Linked DNA regions of Homo sapiens: region 1 is linked to region 2. The links come from fine-mapping of genetic effects on gene expression. Tissue or cell type: whole blood. Region 2 holds a variant in brackets; the other region holds the start of a gene. All regions are shown on one strand. Distances are between the middles of the regions.

Region 1 (2,689 bases), 76 kb after region 2:
GGAGGTGCATAATATAAGGCTATGGGAAGCCATGGGAACAAGAGCTGAATAAATTCACAGTATTATTCTATTTATCCACATCCCTATGCAATGCTGGGAAGCAAATGACCCACAGGGTTTTGTTTGCTTGCTTTGGTTTGGTTTTCCTGCACTTGGAGGGAGGGGAAATTTGCTCAAGCTCTGTAACCTTGCAGTCAGATGGGTGGCCCAGCCCAAGTCACCCGAGCTCCCCCTGACGCTGGCAGCAGCGCGGGCTTCTACCTGCCTGGGGCTGGAGTACCAATTCCCCCACCTCCTGCACAGAATGGGACCAAACCAACTCCGCCAATGCATTCCCTGCAGTCCACAGACGATGGGCACCGGGTCCCAAAATCTTTCCCCTGGGACGAGACTCCGCTGGTACCAAGAGAAACTTGCTTTCTAAACTAAGCTCTCCAACCGCATCGCTCCGGGTCCCCGGAGGCACCAGCCACGCCACCCGATGGAGCAGAGCGTTACAGGGCTCCGCCGCGCCAGGCTCCCCAGACTCTGCCACCCCCACGGCCGCCCCTGTAGGCCAGGCCCCGCGAGCTGGGAGCGCGGGTGAAGTTACAAGGCGACCTCCCTGCAGGCTTCCGGCTGGAAACGGCCTTTTGCGAGAACACCACGTGCATGTCCTCCCAAAAGCGATGGTGCCGGGTGGCCCAGAGGGCGCAGAGCCACCGCCGGGCAGGGAGCGGGCGCACGGACCTAACAGGTGAGCACCCGGTAGCCTCCACCGGCGGGGGAAGCAGAGGCCAAGCAGCTGGGAGCTGGACATCCCGAAGCCCCGAGGCAGTCCACTGGGACTCAAATCCTCCCGATATTCTACCTAACAGCCCATGCCCGCGCCCGCCCGGCAGAGCCGCGCGCCCGAAGCCGTCTTACCTCCTGCGGCGCCTCTTGGCGGAGCCTACAAAGTCAGCGTGTCCAACACGTCCCTGCCCTCAGAGCCACCTCCGGTGCCGGCGGAGCCCCGAGGTCGCCGCACTCTCGGAGGAGCCTGGGATCCAGTGCGCGCCCTCGGAGCTAGCGACCGGCAGGGCGATCGCGGGAGAAAGCGCAACGCACACTCTCCTCCCGCGCCGCGGCAGCACACTCAGCCAAGCCACGCCCCAGCCCCGCTCCCCACCAGGCCACGCCCCCAGCCCGGCTCTTCCCCCCGCCCCATATCAGGCCACGCCCCCGGTTAGCTCACTCCCTCAGGCCACACCCTCGGCCACGCCCCCACACTACCAACCACAGCCGGGGACCCCACCCATCAAAAACAGTTCCCCGGCCAGGCGCAGTGGCTCTTGCCTGTAATCCTAGCACTTTTGGAGGCCGAGGTGGGCGGATCACCTGAGGTCAGGAATTTGAGAGCAGCTTGGCCAACATGGTGAAACCCCGTCTCTAATAAAAATAAAAATTAACCGGGCGTGGTGACAGGCGCCTGTGATCCCAGCTACTCAGGAGGCTAAGGCAGGAGAATCACTTGAACCCGAGAGGCGGAGGTTGCAGTGTGCCGAGATCGCGCCACTGCACTCCAACCTGGAGGACACAGCCAGACTCCGTTTTTTAAAAAAAGAAACAAACAAAAATAGTTCCCTCAGCCACCAGCCAGCCCCCACCCCCCAGGGCGGGAAGAGGAGTCTCATCTCCGGGGCAACCGTGCCCCACTGCCCACTGCCTGGGCCAGAAGTTCACTCCCTGTGAAAGGAAAACGCAGGGTAGGGATTTTTAAACCTACATGTTTCCCAGGGCCTGGGGCAAGTCTTGAGTAGACTGTTGCAGTAAACCGACTCAAAGGCCTATCACCTTTCTTGTGAGGCTCAAGGCCTAATCATTAATTGACATGAAAACCACAGAAGAGAAGCAAACCCTTCTGTGCTGGGATCTGTGCCCCAGTGCTCCATGTTCCCTGATAGGCAGCTAATGGAATTCATAAAATAAATGCATGCTTTCTACCAGTGTAGTTTTTTAGATGATTCATTTAGTGGCCAGCACTATTATTTATAAATGTCTATTGTCTTTTATAATCAAAGAACAATACCCACAATCTGTAAAATAAAAAACAAAAATTATATTACCCAATGAAAAGTGAAAATTAATTTTATGTATGTTTTTTAAAATATTGAAAAAACTCTGTATGACATTATAATGGTGGCTTCATGTCATTATGCATTTCTCAAAACTCACAGAATGAACAGCATGCGGCGTGAGCCTCCTGTAAGTAATGGACTTAGTTCATCTTAATGTAACAACATGGGCCCATCAATCATAACACATGTGCCACTCGAATGTAAGATGTCAGTACAAGCAGCTGTGTGTGGAGGGAGGGGCGTGAGGGAGTACATCAGAACTCCGTGTACTTTCCATTCCTGTTTTCTAAACCTAAAACTGCTCTAAAAATAGTCTATTAATTAAAGCACACTCCAAGATTAATGATAATTATCTGTGGGTGGTGGAAATATGGGCAAATTTTATTTAATTCTTTGAATTGTTATTGAAATTACCCCAAGTTTTAACAATGACCATGTATTTTTAAAGCTGAAAAAATATAAAAACCAAACCTTGGAAAATTTTAGAAACATAGTATGTGAGGCTAATATCATTGACTGTTCCATTTTATTTCTACTCTATAAAAAATCTGCACAAAGCACTCACAAATGCTAAAATGAAATCTATGTTA
Region 2 (2,689 bases):
GCACCCACCTCCATTTTAATTATTTTTAGGTGTATGAGTCAGTGGGATTAAGTACATTCACACTGTTATGTAATTATCACCACCATCCATCTTCAGAACTTTTTCATCTCTCCCAAATGTATCTCTGAACCCATTAAATACTCTCTTCCCCCACAGCCCCTGGCAATGACTACTCTACTTTCTGTCTCTATGAATTTGACTACTCTACGGATCTCATGTGAGTGGAATCATACAGTATTTATTCTTTTGTAACTGGCTGATTTCACTTAGCACAATGTCCTCAAGGTTCAGCCATGCTGCAGCATGTTTTTTTTGTTTTGTTTTGTTTTAAGATGGAATCTGACTCTGCCGCCAGCATTGGAGTGCAGTGGTGCAATCTCGGCTCACTGCAACCTCCACCCCCTGGGTTCAAGAGATTCTCCTGCCTCAGCCTCCACCTCCTGAGTAGCTGGGACTACAGGCACCCACCATTATGCCCAACTAATTTTTTGTATTTTTAGTAGAGATGGGGTTTCACCATGTTGGCCAGGCTGGTCTCGAACTCCTGACCTCATGATTCACCCACCTCGGCCTCAGAAAGTGCTGGGATTACAGACGTGAGCCCTGCGCCCAGCCTGCAGCATGTTTGTTAAGGCATAAATAATATTCCGCAGTATATGTACACACTATACTTTTTATCCATTTGTCCATCAACAGACACTTGGGTTGTTTCCTTCTTTTGCCTCTTATGAATAGTGCTGCTATGAACATGGGTGTCTAAATACCTGTTTGAGTCCTGTTTTCAATTCTTTTGGACATATACCCAGAAACGGAATTGCTGGATCATACAGTAATTCTATGTTTAACTTTGGAGGAATCAGCACACTGTTTTTCACAGCAGCCGTACCATCATTTTATTTTCCCACCAGCAATGCACAAGGGTTCCAATGTCTCCCTATCTTTGTGAACACTTGTTATTTTTTTTATAGTAGCCATTCTAATGGGTGTGAAGTAGTATCTCACCATGGTTTTAATTTGCATTTCCCTAATGATTAGTGACACTGAAGATGTTTTCATATACTTTATCATTTGCATATCTTTTTTTTTTTTTTTTTTTGAGATGGAGTCTCCCTCTGTCACCCAGGCTGGAGTGCAGTGGCGCAATATTGGCTCACTGCAACCTCCGCCGCCTGGGTTCAAGTGATTCTCCTGCCTCAGCCTCCCCGAGTAGCTGGGACTACAGGTGCGTGCCACCACGCCCAGCTAATTTTTTTTTATATTTTTAGTAGAGACAAGGTTTCACCATGTTGTCCAGGCTGGTCTCAAACTCTTGACCTCAGGTGATCCACCCGCTCACCTGCATATCTTCTTTAGAGAAATGTCTATTCAAGTCCTCTGCCCATTTTTTAAATGGGGCTGTGTTTTTTGTTGTTGTTGAAGATATCATTTATGTCATTTAATTTAAAAACTCTCTGAAGTAGATGCATTTAATTCTACTTTAC[A/C]GATAAGAAAGATTAAGTGATTCCTCAAGAGATGAGGAGGCTAATAAATGGTGAGCATGTCTGCAAGCCACATCCCAAAGCAGATGCTGATTCTAGGCCTCCTTCCCCATTTGGAAACCCAGCTGCAGGCCCGACCCCACCCCTCACTACTTATGTGACAGTCCTTGAACTTTTCCAAGCCTCAGTTTACTCATCTGTTAAAGCAAATACAAAAATCACCTATGTCACAAGTGGCTGTGAAAACTGAATGCAACAGTGTTGCATGATGGAACTTCATCCACTGAAAAGGCATATCAATTTGAGCTGTTATTATTTATATTCTTATTTTCAAGAAACAGTTACTTTTTTAAAATCCCAAATGAGTTGGTAAAAATTCTAGTTCTCAGTAGTGGATGGAGCAATTGCTAGACTTACACTGCTCAACATATTTTAGACCAAATTCTTTATTTTATTTAAGACAGGGTTTCACTCTGTCAGCCAGGCTGAAGTGAAGTGGTGCAATCATAACTCACTGTGGCCTCGATCTCCTAGGCTCCAGCAATCCTCCCACCTTGGCTTCCTAAGTAGCTGGGGCCACAGGCTTGCACCACCACACCTGGCTTTTTATTTTTTTTTAAGAGACAAGGTCTCACTATGCTGTCCAGGCTGGTCTCGAGCTCCTGAGCTCAAGTGGTCCTCCAGCCTTGACCTCCCAAAGTGCTGGGATTATAGGCATGAGCCACCACGTCAGCCAGACCAATTCTTTATCACACCATTTCTTGCTTGAAAAGTTTTTACAAGCAATCTTTCTCTCTTTCCGGCATGCCTCCCTGGCTTCAATCACTCTATTCTGGAGAAGTACAGGACACTTTATACCTAGAGGAGCCTCAGCCTGGACAGCGAATCTCAAAGTTTGCATTGACAAAAGTCATTTTCCCGAGTTGATTGCTGATAGTCCAAATTTCTGGGTCTAAACCTCAGGGACTCTAATTCAGTAGCTTTGGGTGAGGTTCAGGAATCTGTAGCTTTGGTTTGTAACTCAGGGCGAGGTCTTTGCTCCGGCTATAACTTAGAAGTACATAATTTGCAAAGTTTAACTGGTCTGTACTGAAATGTTTGACCAAAGGAAATAATTTCAATCATAACAATGATTTCTGTTATAAAAGCTACTATTAACCCGATTTACCATGTTCCAAGGCACTGTGGTAAGTACCATACATGCATTATTT

The links. PIP is the estimated chance that this variant, and not a neighbour inherited with it, causes the effect.
Region 1: it holds the start of SPATA13, and the variant in region 2 is fine-mapped to the expression of SPATA13 in whole blood (INTERVAL, PIP 0.97).

What each region holds. Positions count from the first base shown.
Region 1 is chr13:24,159,150-24,161,838 of GRCh38, reverse strand. It overlaps SPATA13 (spermatogenesis associated 13), which reads right to left and starts at 1,119. Exons shown (of 13, transcript NM_001166271.3): 1 at 907-1,119. RefSeq lists a silencer at 1,169-1,228.
Region 2 is chr13:24,235,003-24,237,691 of GRCh38, reverse strand. All of the region lies in intron 2 of SPATA13 (spermatogenesis associated 13), which reads right to left. Among named protein-coding and RNA genes, the nearest start is that of SPATA13-AS1, 18 kb to the left of the region's middle. The variant A/C (reference allele first, on the strand shown) is at 1,482.